4 linked regions of the Homo sapiens genome follow. The protein of the gene in region 4 purifies or fractionates together with the protein of the main gene of each other region. This does not show direct contact. Each region holds a gene or a part of one and is shown on either strand. Other genes may lie near its edges.

Region 1 (7,037 bases), on a different chromosome or scaffold from region 4:
TAGTCAAAATTTTACAATTTTGCAAATCAAATACATTTTATATATTTACAAATAGGAAACTATTTTTGAGAGAGAGAACACGACTAGACTACGGAGATTCAAGTAGCTGTGTTAGGACATAAACCACACTTGAACATAATTTCTAGAATGCTGGTTCTGAAAAGCCACCAAGTTGTTTCATTTCTACCTTTCCCTTCACAAAGCCTTTCAGCCAGTCATTCTACTTAAAAATTTTTAAGTCAAATCCCAACTCCAGGTTTTTTGCTGGTGAGATGTTTTGCCAATTTGATGACCACATGAAGGAATTATAAACTATTCCTTCATTTAAAAAGAAACTATAGGGTCTAAAATTTAATTAGCATATTTAGTGACTGCGGCCACTATATACTGAGTTCTTTTGCAAAAACCCTCAAGTTCCTGGGAAAACTCAATCCTAGGTAAACACAATCATCTGTCTTTTCTCTATGTTTGTACCTGGGAAGCTAAACTCTTATCATAAAGCTGATTGATACACAAAAAGCAGAAAGTAGTTTAGTTTCTCATTCTGAAGAAGATATTTCATACCTCCCTCACCCTTCTGCAACACCTCCATGCCTCCTTCACTCACCTGTCTTTCAAGGACTTTCTCTATTGTTATTTATTTATTTATTTGTTTATTTTTGAGATGGAGTCTTGTTCTGTAGCCCAGGCTGGATGGAGTGCAGTGGTGCGATCTTGGCTCACTGCAACCTCTACCTCCTGGGTTCAAGTGATTCTCCTGCCTCAGCCTCCCGAGTAGCTGGGATTAGAGGTGTGCACCACCATGCCTGGCTAATTTTTGTATTTTTAGTAGAGACAGGGTTTCACCATGTTGGCCACGCTAGTCTCGAACTCCTGACCTCAAGTGATCTGCCTGCCTCAACTTCCCAAAGTGCTGAGATTACAGGCGTGAGTCAGTGTGCCTGGCCACGTTATTTAAAGAAATAGAAGTCTTCTATAAAGAACTTTTGTAGTTTTCTACCAACAGAGTGATGTATCTGTCTGAACTCATAGATGTCCTTTGCTCCTTTCTTCCTGTGCAAATGAAGGAATCCCTCTCCTGTTGATGGGAAGGCCTATCTTTCCATGTGTCAGCATCCACAAACTCACCCTTTCTCAAAGACCTTACGCAGTTGATTATTTCCTTCCTATCTACAACCTTTCCCTCTTTATTAAATCCTTTCTTTATATACAGGTATTAAAATATGCACCCGCATTCCCATCCTAAAAATAACGACAAAAAATTAATAACTCCCAAATATCTCCCTTGAATCTCAAATCTCCTTCCCCTCCCCTCTTCGCTTACCACCCTTTCTCTCAACTACCATTCACAGCCAAACTCAGGAAAGAGTTGCCTACCATCAGTATTGTTTTACGTCCTCATTTCTATCTACTCATCGGGTGTGTCACCCTCCACCTCCATTAATGGCTCTTACTAAATAATCTCCATATCATTGTATTCAATGAACACTCTTTGCCCTTCGTCTTATTTTTCCCCTAAGCAGCAATTGATCCCACTCCCTACTCCATGAAGCCCTCTTTCCTTCCAGCTTCTGTGACAAAGCTCTCCTGATTTGCTTTCTCCTTTCTGTTTATTCATTCTCAGTCATCTTACAGGCTCCTCCTTTTCAGACAATATGAATTCCAAATATGAATTCTACCTTTAAATCTTGTAGTCTTCCTCAAGGACTGTGTCCTAAGACCACTCCTGTCTTACTCTCTACTATCTCTCCTTAGTGATCTCATCCACTTCCATGGTTTCTAATATCACCTTACATGAAAATAACTCCAAACTTCTATTTACCCCAGGCCATTTCAGATTAGTAAACTGATACCATCTAATACTAAACCACAGTGACAAGCTTACCTGTAGGTGAGCAACTGTTTTGCCAAAAGCTTTTCTTTGTTTAACATAGTTCCTGGTTTCTTCAAACATGAATTCACTAGCTGAAATTGCCACATCAGCAATTAACAGCCTTTCCTATAACACAAAAATTAGGTCTTAAACATTACTCTAATTATGCAAGTGATTTTCACACAATTTCAATTACGATAAATCCTATAAATTATCTTTATAATAAACTCATAAAGATTAATTTATATCTTAACTCCTTATAAGAAAACAGATTTATGAGATTCTTTTGACATATCTCTAATCACTTTCTAAAGCAAATCCTTTATTTTTATGAATGACTACCTTTATTTTTTTATAATCTTTTTAAATTTTTAAGAGACAAAGTCTCACTCTGTTGCCAAAAATGGAGTACAGTTGCACAATCATAGTTCATTACATCCTGGAATTCCAGGGCTCAAGTGATCCTCCCACCTCAGCCTTCCGAGTAGCTGGGACAACAGTCACATAACACCATGCCCATGAATGACTGTCTTCATTATATATATGCAATTTAATTTTTCTTCTCTTTACTCACATGTGAGTTAAAAACAATCCCCAGTTGCTTATTTCAATTTATTAATCTCTGCACACTGTATGACTCAATATATCTGTGGAAATAAACATCTTAAAGCACATAAGTTAAATTCTACCTATTAATGTAAAAGTAGCCTTAGTCAGTTTGATTCCATCATGCTGGTGTTTTTCATGGCAGTCACTAGGCAGGAGTACCCCCTTACACTGGCATCTGAGGCTCAATAATCACTTGTCAACCATACTTTAAAACCATAGCTGTTTAGGGACTGACCCTATGTGGCTAAAACTTTTCAGTCTGAATTTTATACTTTTCCCTTTGATTCACAGTTATTATTTAAAAACTGGCAAACTATCAAATGTTTTGCAAGACATTTCCTTACAAAGAGCTAAAAGTTTTTGAATTGTAGTTAAGAAGCTAAAATCATTCTAAGAAGGAATCACAGAACTGAAATATCTGTTTTTCCTACTTACTTTATAAGCTTTGATTGGATATTACTGAGTTCAGTTATTTACTTAACTACCCTATAAAACTCATACTTTTATTACAACTTTAATACTCAAATGATTAGCTATTTCACAAGTTTTGCATGTATAAATTTGAATGCATAATATAGAAATAACATGTTTCTATATTATTCTATTCCAATTCATTATTCAGTCAAAAGATGGAATCTTTAAACACTTCTGACCTGTGGAAGCTCTTTCATGATGTAATAGAAGCCTTTATTCTCTTCTCCAAGTAGGGCACTAGCTGGCAACCGTATATCTTCAAAGAATAGTTCTGCGGTATCCTAAGAGACCATACAAAAAATGTAGAGAATGGTCTCATTTAAATCTTCCAATAACCCAGTGAATATTGAAGTGAATATTATTTTTTCCAAAAAAACAAAACACAAATTGGAAGCCAAGTTGGAGTAGTTAATGAACATAACTAGTAAGTGGTAAACCAGGGATTTGAACCCACAGCCATCTGATTCTAAACCTTGTGGCTTTCCTACTGCAATACACTATCATTCCAGCTCTAATACTGTCCAGTTCTCAAGGTACTTGGAACTAAGGATTTCTAATACATATTAAGCAAAACATGCATTTTTGGTAATGTATAGAAAGAACATTTTCTGGGTTTTTTTTGTTTGTTTGTTTTATTTTTTTTGAGACAGAGTCTCATTCTGTTGCCCAGGCTGGAGTGCAGTGGCGTGATCTTGGCTCACTGCAACCTCTGCCTCCTGGGTTCAAGTGATTCTCCTGCCTCAGCCTCCCGAGTAGCTGAGACTACAGGTGCCTGCCACCACACCCAGCTAATTTTTTATTATTAGTAGAGATGGGGTTTCACCATATTGACCAGGCTGGTCTTGAACTCCTGACCTCAGGTGATCCGCTGGCCTCAGCCTCCCAAAGTGCTGGGATTACAGGTGTGAGCCACTGTGCCTGGCCACACTTTATTTTTATTTCATATTTTTCTTTAATGCATTTTACAAATAGATGGCTTGTTACCATGCAGTTAATTTTGCCATTTCTAAAACAGATATTCAAAATACCTTGATTCATTTCTATTGCTGACCATCAGAAAGATAGAGTGGTATAAATGAGAATAAATCTCATTACCACATCAGAAAAGCATATTTTAGGAATTCAGCATAGGAAATAAAATTGTGCCACATGTAATCCTCTATGTAAGTCTCCTATCTGATTAACAGTAAACTCAATTAGTATCTGAATATGATTTACATTATCACTCACCTGGGCTTTTAATCCCATTTTATGTAGCTTTCGTCCCTTGATAAATCCTTTCATTCCATTTTCCACCAGAAAAAGGCTAATACCATGGGCAGGGGAGGGAGCTTCATGATTTGTGACCGCAACTACAATCACAACATCACTTAATGACCCATTACTGATGAACACCTGCAAAACCCCAAGTACATTATTAATGCACCATGATAATTCAATTCTATGTGCAAGTTATGATTGGGAGAAAGTATATTACAGAAAACTAAAACAGACAAGACATGCTTGATACCTCTCTCTGTACCCTACCCAAATATCTGCAAAGTTGATTATTCACACATGATGTTATCAAGGATCAGGGGAAAAATTACTTAATGCTTCAAAGAATGAAACCTATAGATTTTCTTTTCACTATTAATATTATACATAATAATAATAAACAGAGATTATTATGTTCTTTAAAAATGAAACCAAATTGTCTATTATGATGATAAATTGTATTTTAGAAGGAAGCCACTGATAAGAAAAGAAAATCTGGCCGGGCCCGGTGGCTCACACCTGTAACCCCAGCACTTTGGGAGGCCGAGGCAAGAGGATCATTTGAGCTCAGGAGTTCAAGACCAGCCTTGCCAAAATAGTAGAGACAAAAAAATTAAAAATTAGCTGATGTGGTAGTGTGCACCTATATATAGTCCAAGCTACTCAGGAAGCTGAGGCAGGAGGATCGCTTGAGTCCAGGAGTTTGAGGTTACAGTGAGTTATGATTGTACCACTGCACCCCAACCTGGGTGACAGAGTGAGACCCTGTCTCTAGAAAAAAAGAAAAGAAAATAAAAGAAAAATAAAAAGAAAGAAAATCTGCTGTAAATGGCACTATATTATTTATTCTCAGATTTATCAGTTTTTGAAAAGGACTATTTTTGATTTTTGTAATTGATATCCTGCTTCCTTTAAAATGGTCTAAATAGGAAACTATGATTAAGGAGGGAAAAATGACAAGCCAAATGAGAGGGATTATCAGATGATATTGATACAGAAAACAGTATACTCAGAGCAAATATTAATAATTATCTTCTCATTCTGCATCTTTCCTGGTTCATCTCAATCATTTTCACGGCTTGAGTCACCCTCTACATGCTGATGTCTCCAAATCTTTATTTAAGCCATGTTTCTTTTCTTTTTTTTAGAGACAGGGTCTCTCTCACCCAGGCTGGAGTGCAGTGGTGTGACCATAGCTCTTTGCAGCCTCAAACTCCTGGTAAGCCACATTTCTTGATAGGACCTGGACCTGAATAAGTACTTGCTTCTGGATAGTTCCACCTGATGACTCATGGGCAGGACATATTCCTTCCCACCCCTACTCCTATCCAATCCTGATTATCAACCTATTTCCCTATCTCAATGAATGCTTCAATAAATTACATTATCATCCTGCTTCATATTCAATTCAGCATCTAGTTTTTTCTAACCCATCTTAATACTTTTGGAATTTATTCACTTCCTTTCAAGTCTATTGTAATTACCTTATTTCCAGCCCTCATCATTTCTTAAGTTCCTACAACTGATCTCTCTACAGCTGTATCATTCATCATGATGTCAAAGAGATTTTTCTAAATGCAATCTGATCATATCACCTTCACACTTAAAAATTTTTGAATAGCTCCTAATAGGCTTCAGGATAAATTCAAAACCTTTAGCAGGAAATAGAAAACTTATCACAAACTGGCACTAGCTTACCTCTCCTTACCTGGCTTATTGCTTGTCCCACTTTCCCCAATTTCCTCTTCTTCAGTCAGCTCTACTAAACTACTTGCTGTCCATCACGTTGCGAGGTCTTCCTGACCTATGAGTCTTTGAAAATCTTGTTTCTGCTACTTGGGAAAGGCCCTTTCCCAACTCTGCTGCAATGAATTGTACTCATCCTGGGTGGTTTAGACATCAGATTGGCCAAAAGGTCTCAAATTCTCCAGGCTGGGTTAAGCGGTCCTACAACACCTCAAATTTACCAAAATGATCTGTTTTTATCTCTCTCTCTTTGAAATAGTAGGGGTATAAAATGATGTTGGTTACTCCCATCACCTAAAATGCACAGCACTGATACATACAAATAATGAAAAATGGGCAAATAATGTTAGTGTTGTCTACACAACAGCAAATGAATATAGTGGTGGCAGTATGGTTATAGGTGACACAATAATAAAAGATCATCAACGTGCCTCCTTACTAGGAGCTCATAGCCATTTCCTATTCATATATCTATCTTAAGTGCTTAGAATTCTTTTTGGCACAGAGGAGGCCAAAGGATGTTTTAAAAATATATTTTGAAAAAGATGTTCCTCAAAAAAATTCTATACAACTTGGCAAAAATATTTTTTCAACAGTATTGCTCCATTACACGACTCCCTTGCTCAAAAACCTTATAAGTCTACCAAGCTCCTACCTTTCTGTCTAGTTCCTAATGTCTGTATAGCTGCCACAGTTGAAATGCTATGAGTGCTTTTTTGTTTGTTTTGCATCACACAGCATCCAGGAATTAGTATCTACAGTATGCTCTCAAATGGTCTCATACATGTTTTAACTACAGATAATAAATAAACAATGGAATAGAAAGGAAGGGAGGAGAAATTCATTGGGCAAAAACTATTCATTTTAATATGCTGAGCTCAATTTGGTAAATCAAGTGGAGTTCTCCAGAAGTTCTTATTGGAAGTAATTATAGCAAAGGATTAATAAAATCTGAACCATTTCTACAACAGTGCGACCTAAAGTGAGTTTAAACACCATGGTGGATCCCCCTTTCTAATAGAGTTATATGAGAATTTTCCTTGCAAGTGGACTTTCTCAGTTTGTTTCCTAATTATGA
Region 2 (7,000 bases), on a different chromosome or scaffold from region 4:
TGTTGGAAAGAGCTGGTTAGACAGTGCCATATAATTAAGGGCTTTGATGCAGCAGGAAACTGGGTGCCAGTAAAGGTTTTTGAACAGGAAAATGCTGAAATTAGAAGCATACCATGTAATTCTTGTCTAAAGGGTCTCTAGGATACTTTTCTGCTAGAATATATCCAACCTGCCAGTAGAGGTCCTTATGAGGACTCATACTTACCATTGCAAAAGGAAGACCAGTGAGCCTATGAAAGAAATGAGTCTGGAAATGGAAACGGACATTTTAATAAAGGACAACTCCCACTTACAGAGATTGTCTAAGCTCCACTGGGCACAGAAACCAACTTGACGTTTCAGATAATCAGGATCATTAGCCCAGGACTCCAATGTGACAAGCCGGTCACTAATACTGGATTCAGAAATAGTCAATTTATTTTCACCTGTTTGGAAAGACATAATCCTTGAATTAACAATGAAAGGGTAGAATGATTTGCTCAGCAAATTAGTATTGCTAAGGAGGGGGAAGAGGCAATTAAAGAATTGGAGACTAGATTAGACTTCAATTAAAATTTCTAGGGAAAACATAGCCAAAGAGCTTTGACTATTTTGTTTTCCTTTTTTTTAGTCACAGGGTCTCACTCTGTTGCCTAGGCTGGAGTGCAGTGGCACAACTATGGATCACTGTAACCTTGAACTACTGGGCTCAAGTGATCCCCCCGCCTCAGCATCCCAAGTAGCTAGGAACATAGGTGCATGCCACCATGCCTGGCTGATTTTTTAAAATTTTTTGTAGAGATTGAGTCTTGCTATGCTGCCCACCCTGGTCTCGAATTCCTGGCCTGAAGCAATGCTCTGGCCTTAGCTTCCCAAAGTGCTGGGATTATGGGCAAGAGCCACCATACTTTTTTCTAGAAACTAGCAATCACATCACTAAATTTTTGGCTATAAAAAGTGAGTAAACATGGTTACCAAGTTTTGATTCTTAGGTGAGAAAATCCTTGCCTTTGTCCCTGTTATACTTCATTGGCTTTAACGTGTCTATCCAGATGAAAACAGAATGTATGCCCATCTGATGGGGTTCAAAGTGTAGGCTTATCCAGTAACTAAGAAAAATAAAATTTTTAACAACCAATACAGAAGATCATTAGTGCAAGAAGTCACTATACCTACTTGTCTGTGCAAACTTTTCCAGTGCGATAAGTGCAAAAAGCATGACTGTGGGGTGGGACTGTAACTTCTGAAAAACAACAAAAGATAAAAAAAAAAAAAAAAAATCATTCCCCTGCAGAGGTGGCAAGTTATCAGTTTCATTTCCTTGCCCAATATGTGCTAGATGTTTTTTCGAGTGGTCAGAAAAGTTTCATTCATTCAAGTTCTCAATTATCCATTTGGCTAATAATGTTAGTAATGAACTGGACAGGCTCTCTTAATCTTGTATTTTTTTCTTAAAGTCACTAGGTTAATTTATAGATTTGGAAATTTCAAAAGTATCCTGTTAAATACACTATGTTATTTTACTTAATAAAACTTACATTAGGGCTTTGTTAAATAAAATATTCATTCTCACATTCATTTATGCAAGCCAAACAGAAACCTAGAATTATAAACTAAAAATGATATTTTACTTAGAATCCTAAAAAGAACCACTTATCACTAACAAGTTGCAAAATTATAAATAATTAAATTAACAATTAATGGCTCAGTTTTTAAGCTGTTCCCTGAAAGGAATTCTACAAATGCTGATGGTAGACAGGAGAAAGCAACAAGTGAACTCTTTTAGTTACATTTAAGCTCATGTCACATGAGTTCCCCTTTAAGGAAAGGTCTATCTGTTGAACATGACACCTTCTCATAGCTGTGCTTTCCCTACTGCTACATTGGGAGCCACCAGAGGAGCTCCAGAACATCAGATGATTCCCACTGACTTCCCTGGTACCTCCTAAGTTCTGGAAACCTCACATAACCACCATCCCTGCTGCTGGAAAGCCTATTCAGCATTCTATTTCTTCTCATATCCATCTAAATCCCTCTGCCTGGCTTTTCAGGCCCTAAACCCTTTCTAGCTGGCTACTCAGTCTGTGTCCTATCTCTGAACACTGTCTTCTCTCATCAGACAATTCTCTGTCTCTGGACTTCTGCCTGTGATGTTCCCTTAGCTAAGAAACCAATTTTTTCCCTCCTCTGGGCACAATAAAATCCTCATCTATAGCATGACCCAGCTGAGGGTCCACCTTCATCAGGAAGTCTGACTTTCATGACACCCCGGCTCTCATTACCCATACCACCCACCTTCTCATTTAGTCTTTTTTTTTTTTTGAGATGGAGTCTCGCTCTGTCGCCCAGGCTGGAGGGCAGTGGTGAGATCTCAGCTAACTGTAATCTCTGCCTTCTGGGTTCAAGTGAATTCCTGCCTCAGCCTCCTGAGTAGCTGGGACTACACACACATGCCACCATGCCCAGCTAATTTTTGTATTTTTAGTAGGGACCAGGTTTCGCCATGTTGGCCAGGCTGGTCTTGAACTCCTGACCTCAGGTGACCAGCCCACCTCAGCCTCCCAAAATGCCGGGCTTATAGGCATGAGCCACCGTGCCCGGCCCTCATTTAGTCTTGATGAAGTACTTTCTCCCATGATCACATCCTGTGATAAAATGGAGGCTAATTACCTTGTCTGAGTAGTTTTGTTTCCTCAACTAACCAATAAACCTCTTGAAATCATAGGACTGCCATGTTGTATCCCCAGAGTGCTCATTGAGAGTAAGGTAAGTGTTTTAAGCACGTATCAGTGGGTATTGACAAATAAGGGTTTTCAGACCAGAGTTTTGAAAAGGGCCAATGCTCACTAGGCCTACAAAAATAACTTTTAAAAATACAGACCATTCAAGACCACAGGCCAGAACTATGAGAGATCTGAGGGCACAGCCTCAGCAAACCAGAAGCTTCATAGACAATATATTAAATATTCCAGTGACAACAGTTTTAAGAGTAGCAGTGAGGGGGAGGGCAGGGAGGAGTAGAGATTTATATATACTGGGAATCTGACTTGATGGCCTCCTGGCTTGGAACGCCATGTAATTGTTTCTACTGTGGAGGTCCCTATTACCATTTGGCAAACTCAAGGAACATGCAAAAGAGCCAATCATAGCAGCTATCTTATGACTAAATTTAAAACCAGACTAACTCAGCTGTTTTTGCTGGTTGGGATAAATTCCAATCCCACTCTCTTTTTTAAACATAGGAGGGAATAAATAAGCACTCGGGAAACACCTGCAAATAAAATTTACAATTGATTCCATTCTCTGTGCCAGTGGCTATGCCAGCAATTTGAGAAAATGCACAGTTCTAGATGATGCCCACTTCTAGATGACTAAGAATAAATAGTTTTGATGTCTCACTTACCAGACACTGTAGCAAGTATTCCAGTATTCCTGGGCTAAGTAAACCTATACTTGCAGGACCTAGACAAATACAACAAACACTTGATATAATTAAAATGCCAGATTATTTTAAATCACTGGTAACAATCAAATTGTTTTGGTAGAACTCTTTCATGCACATTATCTTATTAAAGCCTCCTGCTCTGAGGTAGAAAATAGTACTAGCTCCATTTCACAGTTAAGCAAGTGAGCCCACAGAATTAAGCAACTAACTCCAGGGCACTTGGCAAGCACATGGGAGAGTCCAAACCAGTAGCCACATGTTCTGATTTCTAATCCATTGTTTCTTCCACATTACGTGATGTAAGTAGCTGAGCTATGCCCCTGTACTTTGCTGTTAACTTTCTTAAAATGGGTAACATTCATAAACAAATTAAATACCTGCTTCTCAGGAACTGCTCCAACCAGAAGTTCCTTTTCCTCTCCCTCTACCTTGTATGTCTTCATAATCGAGCTAAACTTTATAAAGTGTGTATATATGCAAATTATATATTGTATACACACATACATATCTTTGTTATGCTGAATTTAGCTTTTCTCCCTTTTTTCTTTTCCTCGCTCCTTATTCTTAAAGCAAATAAGCACAACTTTTTTCTTTTAAAATTTCCCCTGAAAATCCACAAAGCTAAATTAAATTGCATTCACCTCTGTAGCCTTTCAGTAATTTTCTTCCAGTTAGTCTATGTCTCTCAATATCATTTTTAAGAGATTTCTTTCTGGTATAGCAGTTTGATCAAAGACATACAGTACAAATTTCCCTTTAATGTCAAACAACTTAAGATCTTCCACTGTGGAGTGTCCCAAAGTTACCTGCTAGTTTCTCGGCCAAGCAGCCTAGGACTGCAGATGTGTTCCTGTGTTTGGCAGGATGGCTTGAGTCCTGGCAAGCTACTTCTCCATTTAAATTGAGAATTTCAGTCAATTTCTGGAGTGCATCCTAAAACAAAAAAGTACAAGTGGGTTTGACCCATATACTACACAGGTTGTTTTCCCAGGCTCATTTTTTTTTTGAGACAAAAGCTATAACCAGCACTTTGGGAGGCCGAGGCGGGCGGACCACAAGGTCAAGAGTTCGACACCAGCCTGGCCAACATGGTGAAACCCCATCTCTACTAAGAATACAAAAATTAGCCAGGTGTGGTGGTGCGCGCCTGTAATCCCAGCTACTCAGGAGGCTTAGGCAGGAGAATCACTTGAACCTGGGAGGTAGAGGTTGCAGTGAGCCGAGATCGTGCCACTGCACTCCAGCCTGGACGACAGAGCAAGGCTCCGTCTCAGGGGGGTGGGGGGAGCTATAACCAGGTGTTAAATAAACTCAGAATGACCATATAAAAATTATGCAATGTACCCTAATGATATCATTGATGGGAAATATCTGATCAACCTGAAAGTCTCCTTACATGACTTACTAGATTCCACTTCATTCAGAATGCTTAAGTTGTATCAAATATATGCTACATATTCTTGAATCACTAAACAGATTAAACCCACTCAGATGCCATTATGAAAACATTAAAGGCTGGTGATGTTGAAGTAAAAAGTTACTTTAAAAAAAGTTTTACTAAGCAAAAACAAATCCCAGCAGAGTTTTCTTCTTTTCTTTTTGCTCTTGCTCTGTTTCCCAGGCTGCTGTGCAGTGAAGTGATCATGGCTCACTGTAGCCTTTACCTCCTGGGCTCAAGTGATCCTCCCACTTCAGCCTCCCTCGTAGCTGGGACTACCGGCACATGTCACAGTGCCCAGATAATTTTAATTTTCTGTAGAGATGGGAATCTCATTATGTTGCCCAGGCTGGTCTTGAACTCCTGGCCTTAAGTGATCCTCCTGCTTCAGCCCCCAAAAGTTTTGGGATTATAGGCATGAACCACTGCACCCTGCCCCAACAGAGTTGAAGGCAAATTGAAACAGGCAGCTCTTATAAGCCTAGGCAAAGGTCAATTCATTGGTGACTACGCTAAAGACTTTCCCCTTCCGTCCACAATGTTTTTCTGCACTGGGCTTAAACAGATGAATGAAAATGCCAGAATTGAGGCTGGGCACAGTGGCTCATGCCTGTAATCCCAGCACTTTGGGAGGCCAAGGTGGGAGGATGCTTGAGCCCAGGAGTTTGAGACCAGTCTGGGCAACATAGCAAGACTCCATCTTAAAAATGAAAGATGCCAGAATCCAAAAGAAGAAAAAAAGAAAAAAAAAAAGGACTCTGTAAAACACATGGGAAAGCAATGAAAGTTCGATGCTTTTGTTCTATGTAAAGGATAACCAATGTTACACTAATCATTAATACATTTGAGTAAGATTCAAAAGTGCTTTCAGTTTTAACTTTTTTTTGTTGTTGTTGTTGAGATGGAGTCTCACTCTGTCGCCCAGGCTGAAGTGCAGTGGTGCAATCTCAGCTCACTGCAGCCTCCACCTTCCGAGTTCAAGTGATTCTCCTGCCTCAGCCTCCTAAGTAGCTGGGATTACAGGTGCACGCCATCGTGCTGGCTAATTTTTGTATTTTTAGTAGAGATGAGGTTTCACCATGTTGGCCAGGCTGGTCTTGAACTCCTGACCTCAAGTGATCTGTCTGCCTTGGCCTCCCAAAGTGTTGGGATTACAGGCATGAGCCACCGTGCCTGGCTTTCTTTTTTTTTTTTTTTTTTAACAGAGACAAGGTCTCACTATGTTGTTCAGGCTGGTATCAAACTCCTGAGCTTAACTGATCCTCCTGCCTTGGTCTCCCAAAGTGCAGGGATCACAGGCATGAGCCAGTACATTCAGCCCAGTTTTTCCTCTTAATAAAAAACATTCTTAAAACTTTTGTTATGAGGAAATTGCTTAGAGAAAGATAAGAAAATCAGCGAAGCAACTCAACATTCTCTTCTAGCTTCTGAATAAAGATCGCCACCTGAGATACAAATACTTCTTTTTTTAACCAGGCTGGAGTGCAATAACGCCATCTTGTCTCACTGCAATCTCGACCTCCAGATTGCAAGTGATCCTCCCACCTCAGCCTCCTGAGCAGCTGGGACTATAGGCATGCACCACGTTACCCTGTTAACTTTTGGATTTTTTTGTAGAAACAGGGTTTCACCATGTTGCCAGGCTGGTCTTGAACTCCTGGACTCAAACAATCTGCCTGCTTTGGCCTCCCAAAGTGTTGAGATTACAAGTGTGAGCCACTGCGCCCAACCTAAATGCTTCTTTTTTTTTTTTTGAGACAGAGTTTCGCTTTGTCGCCCAGGCTGGAGTGCAGTAGCACAATCTCAGCTCACTGCAACCATTGCCTCCCAGGTTCAAACAATTCTCGTGCCTCAGCCTCCTGAGTACTGGGATTACAGGTGCCTGCCACCACTCCCGGCTGATTTTTAGTAGAGACGGGGTATTTTAGTAGAGACGGGGTTTCACCATGCTGTTCAGGCTGGTCTCGAACTCCTGACCTCAGGTGATCCACCCACCTCAGCCTCCCAAAGTGCTAGGATTACAGGCGTGAACCACCGCGCCCAGCCTTAAATGCTTCTATTTTTAACATTTAAAAAATTTTAACCTAGGCTGGGCACAGTGGCTTACACGTATAATCCCAACACTTTGAGAAGCCAAG
Region 3 (7,334 bases), on a different chromosome or scaffold from region 4:
AAGTGGGTGAAGGACATGAACAGAAACTTCTCAACAGAAGACATTTATGCAGCCAAAAAACACATGAAAAAATGCTCACCATCACTGGCCATCAGAGAAATGCAAATCAAAACCACAATGAGATACCATCTCACACCACTTAGAATGGCAATCATTAAAAAGGCAGGAAACAACAGGTGCTGGAGAGGATGTGGAGAAATAGGAAGACTTTTACACTGCTGGTGGGACTGTAAACTAGTTCAACCATTGTGGAAGTCAATGTGGCGATTCTGGAACTAGAAATACCATTTGACCCAGCCATCCTATTACTGGGTATATACCCAAAGGACTATAAATCACGCTGCTATAAAGACACATACACACGTATGTATATTGCAGCACTATTCACAATAGCAAAGACTTGGAACCAACCAAAATGTCAAACAATGATAGACTGGATTAAGAAAATGTGGCACATATACACCATGGAATACTATGCAGCCATAAAAAATGATGAGTTCATGTCCTTTGTAGGGACATGGATGAAATTGGAAATCATCATTCTCATAAACTATCGCAAGAACAAAAAACCAAACACCGCATATTCTCACTCACAAGTGGGAATTGAACAATGAGAACACATGGACACAGGAAGGGGAACATCACACTCTGGGGACTGTTGTGTGGTGGGGGGAGGGGGGAGGGATAGCTTTAGGAGATATACCTAATGCTAAATGACGAGTTAATGGGTGCAGCACAACAGCATGGCACATGCATACATATGTAACAAACCTGCACATTGTGCACATGTACCCTAAAACTTAAAGTATAATAATAAAAAAAAGCTAATCATAGAATTCTCATTTGAAACAACATCTATTCCTAGGTATATACCCAAAGAATTAAATCCAGGGACTCAAACAGGTACTTGCATGGGAATGTTCATTGCAGCATTATTCACAAAAGATAAAATATGAAAACAATCCAAGTGTTCATCAACACATGAATAAACAAATATGGTGACACATACAACAGAATGATAATCTGCCATAAAGAGGAAGGAAGCTCTGACACCCGCTGGAACATGCATGGACTTTGGAAACATTATGCTAAGTGAAATATGTCAGAAACAAAATAACATAATTGTATAATTCCATTTATATGAAGCATCAAGAATAGGCAAATTCATAGAGACAGAGTAGAGAAGATCAAGGTCTAAGGTGGAACATACAGGGAGTTATTGTTTAAAAGATACAAAGTTTCAGTTTAAAATGATAAAAATTTTCTAGGAAAAATACTGGTGATGGTAATTTAACACTGTGTAAGTGGTTAATTTCACTTGATTATGCATTTTAAAGTGGTTAAAATAGCACATTATTCACAGAACTGTGAAAAATAGATTTCTATTATTTAATTCACCCAGGCTAAGGTGTCTGTTATGGCAGCTGAAGCCCATGAATACATCATCTGACCCAGTGTTTCAATGAAAGGCATCAGATTTTCAATCAAGTTAGCTGGAAGCTCCTGTCCCCAGCAGAACCAGACGCCCCAAAACAAGAGCTCCAGCAGGGGCTCAACCAGCACAGGTCCCATAAGGCAGCCTCAATATCAGACCCTGGATGGCATGTGAGGCCACAGTGATACAACCACAACGTGAAAGTGTAAGTATTTTTACTACTTACAGACACTGGGGAGCACTTGGCACACCTGGAGACCACAGACACAGAGGTCAGTGAGCCCATGGAGAGAGGAGAGAAGAGACCGGTAAGCCAATGGCTTTATTAAGTCCAGGGTGTTATCTGACAGGTTTCCAGCAGGGAGCTTTAATGGATGTGTTCAAAGCAAGCAGCAAACACTGGGACCAGGGGCTCACGCTGTGACTGAGAGGTGGTCACTTTAAATGTGAGGGCAAATGTCAGAATTATCAGTTTAAAGAAAGCAGCTGGAGAGAGGGAAACCCAGCACACCAAGCAGGAGAGATGCCTCTAAGATTTTATCTCTGCACACCAACTGGAGCCACCTGAACCAGATACAGTATTGAAACTGCATTGGTGACCAAGCCCTGCCTCTGATTTGAGGCAAATAAACTTACACCATAAAAGATGAATGACAAGGCAACATGACACTATGAGCATCATGACATCCAGGGACACCAGCAGGGTGTGGTACTGTGCCCTGGAGTCAGAATCCTGGGTTCTGGTCCCTGGGAGTGAGAAAATGAAAATGACTTGTCCTTGCCCCCCTGACATTGATCTTCCCACCCTGCTGCTCCCTCTTCTTCTCCCAAGCCCATGTGCACTGCTCAGCCCCAGACATCACTGCCCCCAGGGTATACACAGTGCTGCCTACTGCACACAAACACAAACTCACAGAAGGTGACAAAAATCTGCATTTGGGACATCTGATTGTGAAAGAGGGAGAACAGTGAACATAGAGCCACACAGACTGGGACTCACGGGGCTGGAAGGTGAAGGAGCTATAACATAACATATGTGTGACCTCGTGTGAAGTGTGCAGATCCATGTGGAATAAAACATGCAGCCTGGCCTGGGATTGCTGCCGTTCACATTTCCCTCCCTGTCCACCAGAGGGGGACAGAGTCCCTCCCAGCCTGGAGCCTTCCCAGGGGATGCCAACCGCCCTCAACGGAACCCACAGCCCAGCAGGGTCCACCCTCACCAGGGTCACTTCGGCCCAAGTCCTCAGCGCCCTCCATGCTCCCCACACGGACTCTGTCAGCTCCTCCCTGACCTGGGGGCCGCCAACCTAACACCACTCCCCCTGCAGGGAGCTCCTCCCCACACACCTGCTCCTTCCCTGGGCCCAGCTAAAGGCATCTCCCAGGGCAGTGCTGGTGCACGCGACACTACACTGGGTGCTTTCCCCTCGTGGCCTCCCTCCATCCTCATCAACTCGTTCTGTCACTGCTCCCTAAATGCCTGCCCCTGCTCCATCTGTCCTGTTCTCTGGGGCATCCCAGGCCAAGCCTAGCACTGACACAGAACAGTGGCTGCCTGAGGGCCCACAGCCTCCCCGGGAATCAGCCAGGCACCCTGTGTCCTGCCTGCTCCCTGCACCCCGGGGGGCTCAGAGCACGTGTGATGCTCACACACAGGCACCATCCGGGATGTGGCCACCTACCCCCAGCTGTCCCTTGGGAAGACAGACCTCTCCTGTGTGCTTGCTGGGAGAAGGGGGATGTTATTGCTCTTTGCTCCCAGAACACAACTCACCCCCACACGCCCACTCAGGTGTGAGCAACGTCCCTCCAGACAGGCTCTCTGGCCACTACCTGTTCCTCCTCTACACACAGCAGCTTGGCCAGGTCAAAAACCTCAGGACAGACCCCTGGGTATGTCGGCACATGGATGGCTGAGCCCATCATGGCCACAGAGTAAGTTGGGATGAATCTCTCCAGCTCTGAACCCCTGCTCTGTCCCAGGCTCCCCCTCCTGCATCTCAATGAGCCATGTCCCCCGGGGTTCCTGGGTAACTCCCCACTTCCTCCTGCACCACCACGGGGAAGGTGTGGTGACCACAGGACAATAAGCTGGGCAGAGAAGAGAGGACATCAAAGATGGTCAGGAAGAACATGAGAAACCATGAGCTCCAGCTCAGCCGCCAGACCCCAGGGAGCCATAGAGTGACCGAGAACTGTCCCTTTGACTATGGGACTCACAGCCCCCCACTGAGCAACCAGCACAGGCCTCTCCTCACAAGAGGCATGAGAGATTCATCCTGCACACCTCCAGGAAGGACAGTTTCCTCTGGGACACCCAGGTCCTGAATGTCCATCCTTGGAAGCTGCAGCCAAGCTAGACACGATTAGAAAAAGGAAGGTTCCCTCTCATCAGGCAACACACAGCTCACCCACAGCACAATGGGGTGTCACTGTGACAGGGACCTGGTTCAGCTCCAGCCTCCTGCACTGAAGGGGAGAGCCAGATGGGGATGAAAGAGGCCAAAGGGCATGAATGTGCACCCCGACCCAGAGCCATGGGGACAGCAGGAGGCTGAGGCCCAGGACTCTGCTTGCCCAACCTGCAGGGTATGTTTCTGACTGTGTGGGTCTGTGTGTGTCTCTTCTGTGTGTGTCTGTGTGTGTGTGTGTCTGCACAAAGTGTGTGATGAGGCTTGGTGAAAGAATCACTGCTGAAAAAGGCAGAGGCCTCCACAATTCCCAGGGACCTGAAACACAGACAAAAGGAAAAACAGGAGGGACAAGGAGGCAGGACTGAGAGAGGAGGGGACAGAGAGGTGTCCTGGGCCTGACCCCGCCCATGAACCTGAGAAGTGCTCCTGCCCCGGGAAGAGGCTCAGCGCAGAAGGAGGAAGGACAGCACAGCTGAGAGCCATGCTCAGGAAGTTTCTGGATCCTAGGCTCAGCTCCACAGAGGAGAACACGCAGGCAGCAGAGACCATGGGGCCCCTCTCAGCCCCTCCCTGCACACAGCGCATCACCTGGAAGGGGCTCCTGCTCACAGGTGAGGAGAGAACTTCCTGGGAGAGGACAGGAGGAGGAAGCAGAGTGACTGGATGGGGTCTCCTGGAGAGACTCCTGGGGTTCTAAAAAATAAAAGAAGCCAGCACTTAGGGAGGCTGAGGAGGGTGGATCACGAGATCAGGAGTTCAAGATCAGTCTGGCCAACACAGTGAAGCCCTGTCTCTACTAAAAATACAAAAATTTAACCAGATATTGTGGTGTGCTCCAGTAATCCTAGCTACCCGGGAGGCTGAGGCAGGAGAATCACGTGAACCCGGGAGGAAGAAATTGCAGTGAGCCGAGATAGTGCCACTGCACGCCAGCCTGGGCGACAGTACAAGACTCCGTCTCAAAAAAAAAAAAGAATGGAAAGAAAAAAGAAAAAAAGGAAAGAAGTCTCTGTTGGAGCCTGGATAGGGGAAAATACACCCAAGAGGGACAGGGGTCAAAACAGGAAAGTCACAGGAACCAGAATTGGTAAGAGGTAGGAAAATCTTAAGTGTTCTGTTTTCCTGATTAATCATCAGGGGCCACCACATTTTGAAAAATGATAATAATAACTATATCAGATGACACTTCAAATAAAAATATAAGCAGGGCATGAAACACTGTCCTCAGCAAAAAAACCTCAACAACTGGGGGAAGAAAAAACACCCAGGGCATGGAGGGCCCTGAGAACTCTCACATCTACAGGAGTCTGCAGCCTGTTCCAGGCACTGGGGTGCAAAGAAGATCACAAAAGTCCCTGTCCTCACGGAGCTCACGCTGTCATGGGGGGGAAGACAGACATGCAAAGAGTTCTAGAATGTGAGGTCAGGTGTTGAGAAGAACCCTGGAGGGAGCAGAGCAGGGAAAGGTCAGAAAGGGAAGACCCAGGGTCTCTGAAGGAGGCGTCAGGAAAGAAGTCTAAGGATGCCCTGATGTGAGCAGGACCTGAGGGCAGTGTGGAGGGGGCCGTGCGGACCCCTGGGGAAGAGGATTCCAAACAGAAAAATGCCAAGGTCAGAAGTGTTGAAGGAATGGGGGTCATGTTGCTGACCTTCACCTAGTAGGAGAGTAGGACACAAACACATATACACATGCCCCTTTTGTGTGTGTGTGTGTGTTTGTATGTGTGTGTGTGTGTCTCTTCAAAGCTGAGGATTGAAGAGACCTTCTCAGGACCCAGGGCCACATCTTTTCACCCCAATGCATAGGTCTCAATATTGACTGATGCTCTCTCCACCTCCTAGCATTACTTTTAAACTTCTGGAACTTGCCTACCACTGCCCAAGTCACGATTGAAGCCGAGCCAACCAAAGTTTCCAAGGGGAAGGACGTTCTTCTACTTGTCCACAATTTGCCCCAGAATCTTGCTGGCTACATCTGGTACAAAGGGCAAATGAAGGACCTCTACCATTACATTACATCATACGTAGTAGATGGTCAAATAATTATATATGGGCCTGCATACAGTGGACGAGAAACAGTATATTCCAATGCATCCCTGCTGATCCAGAATGTCACCCGGGAGGACGCAGGATCCTACACCTTACACATCGTAAAGCGAGGTGATGGGACTAGAGGAGAAACTGGACATTTCACCTTCACCTTATACCGTGAGTGACTCCACGTGATCACTGGGTGTTGGGGGATGGGGTCTTTACTTCACACACAAAGGATTGTCAGGCCTGGATTGTGCCTGTGTCCCTCTCTGCATTATGTCCCATGCTGGGGTTTGGGCATTTAGTGCAGGACACACACAGAAGAGACAAATTTCAACAGATCAGAATTCCTTTCCCGCATCCAGACCCTGCAGACACTCGCTGCAGAGGAAGGACAGTCTGATGGGGGGACTCAGCAGGAGGAGATCAGTCTCAGCCAAGCACCTCATGCTCTCTTCATAAATTTGACCCTGAGAAAGACCCTGGCAAACTGAGTAGGGCTTGGCCTCAGGGGCCCCATGAAATACTCTCAGAGAAGCTCAGCCCTAGAAGCCTCACCCCCAGAACCATGTCCCTAAATCCTTGCTCCAGATAAATCTGAGGAGCCTGTACTGGGGCTGGGTTGTCGCTTCTTGGGCAGGGCTTACTGGGACCAAGGATTTACCAGCTGTCAGAGGACTGTGTCTCCTGGAGCTGTTCACCAGCCAGGGCTCAGCCCTCAGAGCCTCATCTGGGCAAGGACAGAGCTTTCTTCACCTGACACTCAGAGTGGAGAGGACAGAAAGACAAGCTTTGTAGGCCATCAGACAACTGCCTTAGGAGGCTTAGGCCAGTCCATAGAAAGTCTAATGTCCCCAGAAGCAGAAACAGAGGAGAGAAGATATACCAGGTAGCAGCTTGTCCACAGGCATCTGACATAAAGGTGCTTTCTCATGGAAGCAAATTAATAATAAATGCTGTTTGTGTGAAACCTCCACTGTGCCAAGAATTAGGTCACGTGACTGTGAATCATTTAACATTTATTCACAGATAGCATGAAAAGCCACAGTCCATTTGCCATTTAGCTTATTTGTTTGAGAGAAAACTGAGGCACAGGAAGCCACAGTCACTGAACCAGAGTCACACAAACACAAAGGGGAGATCAGGGTCACATGAGGTGTGTCTGGAGCCAAAGGCCCACCCTCTCCTCCACCAGAAGTGAGGGCTTACTGGGTTCCAATCACCCTATAGTCATTTATTGGCTCAAATCCTCTCTTCTTAGGCATCCAAACCTCAGAGGAGTGAGAGCAAACGGTCAACTGATTAGTCTGTATTCCAGAACTAAATCACCTACCTCAACCGTCAGAGTCAGTGGAAAAAACATGTCCAGGCCTCCCCCTCAGATCTTAACCACCATCACTGAACCTGAAATCCTGTGTTTCCCAAAGTGTCCATGTCACTGTCACAAG
Region 4 (7,037 bases):
GAATTTGTAGAAAGTTAGTAGAATGAAACAATCTTATTTTGTATAATGAGGAATAGAATACTGAGAATGTGTCTGAGAAACATGGCACTGGTAGGAAAAAGTAAACAGTTTATTCTCATCTGCTCAATAAGCTAAGTCATTTTAACTTGAAAATCATCAAAATTTTCATGAAACCTTCCACCAACTTTATTTTTCCCCAGCTTTAGTAAGATATAATTGACAAATAAAAATTGTATACTGTATACAACATGATGCTTTGATACATGTATACAAGTTTAAATATTTGTGTTTCCTTAGTCAAACTCCTCACTTTTTTGGAAGTTGACAGAATTTAATCTTGGATTGTGTCCAATAACTAGCTTTTACCACTATTCAGTATATTTTGGATAAGAAACACATAACAGTTTATTCTTTAAAAAAGCAATTTTACTATTTAGGAACTGTGTTTAAAAAGCATTTTAAATATCATTTATGCAAGAGTTTTCAAGGTTTTTTCATTCTAAACCCTTTAACCAAAAAAAAAAAAAAAAAGATTTATGTGAAATTCGAAGTAAATAGAAGAGATCAAAGCAGATCTGTTCTGGCTGAGGCTGAGTTTGAGACCTGTAAGACAGTCTACTTGCCATATGGCTTGGCTGTGTCCCCACCCAAATCTCATCTCGAATTGTAGCCCCCATAATTCCCACATGTTGTGAGAGGGACCTGGTGGGAGATAAATTAAATCATGGGTGCAGTTTCCCCCATACTGTTCTATGGTAGTGAATGAGATCTGATGGTTTTATAAGAGGCTTCCCCTTTCACTTGGCTCACATTCTCTGACTTGCTTGCCACCATGTAAGACATGCCTTTTGCCTTCCTCCATGATTGTGAGGCCTCCCCAGCCACATGGAACTCTGAGTCCATTAAACCTCTTTTTCTTTATAAATTACCCAGTCTCAGATATGTCTTTATCAGCAGTGTGAAAACAAACTAATATAACCTGTTTCCTCTGTCCCATTTATCCATCTTCTGAAGTGGAATGCAAAGAAGCTTTACCCCGAACTGCTGGAAAACCATAGTTCTCTATTAATACAAACTATTTGTGGGCTTTAGTCATCCACTATTTGTGCCTTACTCACCCATTGCTTGTGATAGTATCCACCTAATTAGAGGCTGCCTATAAGTCTCTACAAAAACTGTACACAGATGTTGTTATATCAGATAGCCATTCTCCTAATTAATCTATATGTTCAACTGTCTAGAATCCATATATGGTCAGTATCCTCTGATTATTCCTGGTCATTGAGACCAACCAGGAAAATATCAAATTATCACTATTTGTTTTATCTTCTTTTTCAGCAATGAGCTCATCAACAGGGGAGTTAACTGTCCAAGCAAGTAAGTCAAGTTAGCTTATATAAACAAGTTCAATTTTCACATCAGAAAGGACATTTTCAAATATTTGCTCATACTTGCCCATCTGTCCTCCAGATTTTCTTTGAGAGATAATAACTATTTGTACGATAGATTTAAATACATTTTTTTTCTAACTCATGGACTGATCTTTTAGTCATGTTCAAGAAAAAAATTGCCATGGTAACCTTCTGGGGCAATTTGAAGAAAGCATTTATTTTTGATTGGGAATATTGGACTTGTTTTTCTAATTTTTAAAAATGCCATAAAATGTACTTTCTGCTACAAAATAAAATAATAAGAAAGTAATCAATAGGAAGGACATAAAACCCATTGTCTGTGACTGACAATTTGTCTGTGAAATATGCTAAGGTCAGGAGTTCGAGACCAGCCTGACCAACATGGAGAAGAAAACCCATCTCTATTAAAAATACAAAAATTAGCCAGGTGCGGTGGCAGGTGCCTGTAGTCCCAGCTACTTGGGAGGCTGAGGCAGGAGAATCACTTGAACCTGGGAGGCAGAGGTTGCAGTGAGCCAAGATTGCACCACTGCACTCCAGCCTCAGCGACAGAGTGAGACTCCATCTCAAAAAAGAAGAAAAAAATATGCTTAATAGATTCATCTTAATCGCTAACAGTGGCTTCATTAAATCACTTCAAATCACTGTGGCCTAAATTTTGAAAGATTTTACAAAAAACAGTGATGAATTTGAGCAATGATGTTCATGCATTTGCCTCTGTGACTTGCAAACACCCTAAGTATTTTTATCCATGTGTTTATTCATTCAACAATATCTTTTAACATCTACCAAGTGCCAGAAATTAGACCAGGAGTTGGTGGTACCATTGTGAATAAAACATGATCCCTGCTCTAAAATTAGAATTCCAAAGTAGAGAAAGATATAAATAAATCAGGAAGTATGAAAATAATGTGATTAATGCTATGACAGAGGAAGTGCATAGTGCTATGAGAGTTGATCAGAGAGTCAGCTAACCTGTTCTCACACAGTAAGAAAGTGAACCCTGAAATGTGAGAGAGAAGAGGCCATGAATCCAGTGACAGGTGGGGTAAGTGTCCTGGGCAGGAGGAGTAGTATACGAAAATGTCTTCAGGCAAGTAAGAATGGGGTCATTTCCTGTAATTACAAGATGTTTCTTATAACTTAATGATCTCATCTTTTTTCAGGTTGTGGTAAACGAGTTGTTCCATTAAACGTCAACAGAATAGCATCTGGAGTCATTGCACCCAAGGCGGCCTGGCCTTGGCAAGCTTCCCTTCAGTATGATAACATCCATCAGTGTGGGGCCACCTTGATTAGTAACACATGGCTTGTCACTGCAGCACACTGCTTCCAGAAGTAAGTTATTGACCTTAAGTTAGAACCCACTTCTGCTAAAAAGCCCTGAGTTTTGTCATATTCTTGGTAACAATTAATGTCTCAAATATTACTGAAGTAAAATAAGAAAAAGTTATTTCAGGTTCTTTTCTAAAATAATGTTACACTTGCATACTTAATCAGAAATTTGATGGGAATAAGTAACAGTCATTATCCTAGTATCCATCAATCATTTCCTCAAAGTTTTTAATAAGGAAACTGTGTAAAGAAATCAGAACTATTTTGTGACATCCTAACACAAAATATTCACTAATAACATGTACCATTAATCTTTTGTCAAACAATGCTCTCCACTTAAAACTAGTGTCTGTTTCTGCCAAACACTTGGGCCAGTCTCATACTGATCTTAAATAATCAAACTAATTCCAAAGTAAAATGGAAATTTTCAATAAATGCCGGAAGTTGGTAACCGTGATGATGGAGAACTGCAGATCAAATTTAGAGCATTGACATATGAAGATCTGTGGAATCAGAACAGTTTACAACCAAAATGAGAGATTGCTAGCATGATAAAGACAGGCACTTCAAAAGAGATTCCTCGGAGTATCAAAGGATTCATAGAGGCCCTTGGGCCACTCAATGTGACCTTCCCATAATAGAGCATCTCTTCACAATAGTGACACAAAAGACAAAGCTGAAGTGAAGAATAGCAAATTGTGCTATCCTATAATTGTTTCTGAATGCATACATTTTATTAAATATATGATTAAATGACTTTTTATAACTTTTAATCTTACTTTTCAAGATAATAACCAGTCATTTTTATCACTATTACATTTAGAATTTTAGATTTGTTTCTAAGTAGATTAACTGTATCGCCTTTCTTCTTCATTGCCAATTATTACAGTAATAACAAAGACTTCTTGAGTATCTCTATATAATAGGTGGCAGCAGGATTTAGTGGGAAAAATATGTCCCAGGCAGTTGGAGAGCTGGGCAAATTATTGAACCTTAGTGTATTAGGTAATAGATAGGCTAGATCTTTTCACATTCTTTTTGACCTATAAAATTCTAACTTTTGTTACTATAATAAATTTCATTTGCCTAGGAGCATAAATCTTTATAGAGACTCTTAATATTCCAAAGAATATACATATTAAGAATCTAGGCTTGGCATGGTGGCTCATGCCTGTAATCCCAGCATTTTGGGAGGCCGAGGCAAGAGGACCACTTGAGCTCAGGAGTTCAAGACCAGCTTGGGCAAGATAGTGAAACCCCATTGGGCATGGTGGTGCCTACCTATCATCCCAGCTACTTGGGAGGCTAACGCAGGAGGATCCCTTAAGCCCAGGAGTTTGAGGCTCCTGCAAGCTATGATTGCACCACTGCACTCCAGCCTGAGTGACAATGCAAGACCCCATCTTAAAAAAATAGTAATATATTTTTAAAAATAATCTACATAAATTCTTAATGTTTGAAAGATGTGAGAGCTCAGTAAGCTGATATATTAGAAAGCCAGAAATCCCTTATGCTGGTGTCTGGTTTTTCAAAGTAATGGGAAACTTACTTTGCCAAAGTTAGCCATTTTTGTGGTAGATAGTTCTATTTTTGCAAATATCTTTATAGCATTGAACACCAAATCTATACTCTATTAACTTCTACCATCAATATTTGTTTTTCTTTTAATCTGGAACAACAGGAACCAATTTTATTTCTTCATTCATATAACAGCTATTCTTTAGTTTCTCTTTTTCAGACCAAACATAAAATGAGGGAGAATATCCAAACCATAAGTGAAAATAAATATCATTACTGTGAGCTTTAGTTTGCTAAGGATAATGACCTCCAGCCCTATCCATGTCCCTGCAAAGGGCATGATTTTGTTCTTTTTATGGCTGCATAGCATTCCATGGTGTATGTATACCACATTTTCTTTATCCAGTCTATCACTAATGGGCATTTAGGTTGATTCTATGTCTTTGCTATACCGAAGAGTGCTAGAGGGAGAGGATCAGGAAAAATAACTAATGGGTACTAGGCTTAATACCTGGGTGATGAAATAATATGTACAACAAAACCCCATGACACAAGTTTACCTGTGTAACAAACCTGCACATGTAACCCTGAACTTTGAAAAAAGTATATATATGCACACACATATATATGCATACATATATATGTGTGTATATATATGCATATATGTGTGTGTGTATATATAAAAAAAAATATATATATATATATATATATAATTACCTCATTTTTCCAGAACCAACTTCCAGATGCCCTACCACATTGGTTCTTATTCTCTGAACATTCGAGACTTTGTCAGTGTCTTCCTTAAAATATGCTTCCAATAACTAAATACACCAAGACAGATGTGTGACTAGTGTCACACATAACAAAATAAAGCAGGAAGTCTTCTGAAAAATACAAATAATGTAAATTGGTGGGAGACAGTGTTTTATAAAGGGAAGAGCAGAGAGAGGCAGGCAGATATGTGATGTGAATCAAATAGTTTAACCTATCCAGGCTTTATTTTCCTTAAGTATAAAACACAGTCTTTACTAGATGATCTTTCATTGCTACTAAATGATTTTTCCGATTCCTGTATGTACCATAATCCACCCATTGCCCAAGCCCACAAGCTAGAAGTCAACCGCATTTACCACATTTGATCATCTCTCAAAGGACTATGCAGTCATCTAATAGACTTTACCACATCCATTCTTGACCTTCAAGAATCTACTCCCCAGAAAGAACCAACATGTTTTTTAAAAATGTAAATGAGACTACATTATTCTCTGGCTTAATTATCCAGTAGATTCCCATATCACTTCAATAAAATTTAAGCACTTTATCATGACCTATAAAACACTCTAAAATCTAGTCCCTGCTTACCTCTCCAAGCTCACCCCCAACCATTCTTTCCCTTGTGTTCTGACTGCAGCCCATCCAACCCAAGACCTTGGGATTTTTGCCTGGAAACTTGTTTCCCTCATCTCCTCACACTGACCCTCTTTTACTATGTCTTAGCCCAAATGCGTTATCAAAATAATCATAATGACCTGTTAGTACTCTATTCCGTTACCCTATTTTATTTTGTTCATAGCCTTTATCAATGTTTAAGATTATTTATCTATTTGTTTGCTTGCTTTGATCCTTTTCCTTCTCTGGAATCTTATACTCCTGTGAGCAGGCACCTTAGGTCCTGTTCATCACTTTATCCCCAGCAGTTCAGATAAGGCTCAGCACACAGATGCTCAGTAAATATTTGTGGAAGGGATAAATGAATGATATTTTATGTGTATTACAGTTCTAAAATTCAATAGTTTTGTATTAAATATCAGTTCTAATATGGCATTTATATGATTTTATCTTTCAAAACATTAGCAATAGATTATATTTAAATGATAAAAGAAAACTATAACTGCAGCCAAGTATTCTCAGGATTGTATTTCTCTTATATTAGCCTAAATGCAATTAATCTAGCTCATATACTTTGGGCAGCTTATATATATTCTGTTAATTTCTAACCTTTTCCAGGTATAAAAATCCACATCAATGGACTGTTAGTTTTGGAACAAAAATCAACCCTCCCTTAATGAAAAGAAATGTCAGAAGATTTATTATCCATGAGAAGTACCGCTCTGCAGCAAGAGAGTACGACATTGCTGTTGTGCAGGTCTCTTCCAGAGTCACCTTTTCGGATGACATACGCCAGATTTGTTTGCCAGAAGCCTCTGCATCCTTCCAACCAAATTTGACTGTCCACATCACAGGATTTGGAGCACTTTACTATGGTGGTGGGTATCTCAGGATAGCTAACAGAGCGCTAAGCCCTGTCTAAGGCAATGTGATTTCATCTCCATCAATATTATCCTGACAGCCATTTCCACACAGTCTGGTTGGATTAGTTAGGGTTCTTACTTTGTGTGACAGAAATTCAATTCACATTAACCAGTGCAGAATAAAAAACAAAGAAACAAAAACTTCCACAAATTTGGCTCATGTAATTTGGAAGTCAAAAAAGTGTAGTAAGTTTCACTTCAGACACAGGGGTTTATATGATGTCATCTGGCTCTGTGTCTCTGAATTTGAATTTTTTGCCCCTTCTTTTCTCTATATTGTCTTCATTCAGAGGGATGCTAGCTTCACCTAGTGTCAGAGGTGGCTAACAACACCTCAACACATCATCCTCAACAAAGAAAAAATACATAGAAAGGAATATTTATTTCTTTTCTTTGCCAGAATTCACATTAATTTCTATTGTTCCAGCTGTGTCTAGGAGGACTCAGATTGAGTGGCTAA

What was found.
Region 1: the proteins of TMPRSS11A (region 4) and ACADL purify together in Homo sapiens (affinity purification with mass spectrometry; 3 studies listed by BioGRID and IntAct, with this or other methods). This does not show direct contact.
Region 2: the proteins of TMPRSS11A (region 4) and RSPRY1 purify together in Homo sapiens (affinity purification with mass spectrometry; 3 studies listed by BioGRID and IntAct, with this or other methods). This does not show direct contact.
Region 3: the proteins of TMPRSS11A (region 4) and PSG3 purify together in Homo sapiens (affinity purification with mass spectrometry; 3 studies listed by BioGRID and IntAct, with this or other methods). This does not show direct contact.

The regions. Positions count from the first base shown.
Region 1 is NC_000002.12:210,201,446-210,208,482, forward strand, and holds part of ACADL (long-chain specific acyl-CoA dehydrogenase, mitochondrial precursor), read right to left. Parts: intron 4,352-7,037; coding exon 4,187-4,351; intron 3,238-4,186; coding exon 3,136-3,237; intron 2,000-3,135; coding exon 1,886-1,999; intron 1-1,885. UniProt on the Homo sapiens protein: Long-chain specific acyl-CoA dehydrogenase is one of the acyl-CoA dehydrogenases that catalyze the first step of mitochondrial fatty acid beta-oxidation, an aerobic process breaking down fatty acids into acetyl-CoA and allowing the production of energy from fats.
Region 2 is NC_000016.10:57,210,329-57,217,328, reverse strand, and holds part of RSPRY1 (RING finger and SPRY domain-containing protein 1 isoform 1 precursor), read right to left. Parts: intron 4,358-7,000; coding exon 4,231-4,357; intron 3,442-4,230; coding exon 3,383-3,441; intron 1,223-3,382; coding exon 1,156-1,222; intron 426-1,155; coding exon 294-425; intron 1-293.
Region 3 is NC_000019.10:42,737,450-42,744,783, reverse strand, and holds the start of PSG3 (pregnancy-specific beta-1-glycoprotein 3 precursor), read left to right. Parts: upstream 1-4,302; 5' UTR 4,303-4,333; coding exon of another isoform or gene 4,334-4,399; coding exon 4,400-4,463; intron 4,464-5,694; coding exon 5,695-6,060; intron 6,061-7,334.
Region 4 is NC_000004.12:67,918,468-67,925,504, reverse strand, and holds part of TMPRSS11A (transmembrane protease serine 11A), read left to right. Parts: intron 1-1,338; coding exon 1,339-1,377; intron 1,378-2,578; coding exon 2,579-2,750; intron 2,751-6,272; coding exon 6,273-6,532; intron 6,533-7,037. UniProt on the Homo sapiens protein: Probable serine protease which may play a role in cellular senescence. Overexpression inhibits cell growth and induce G1 cell cycle arrest.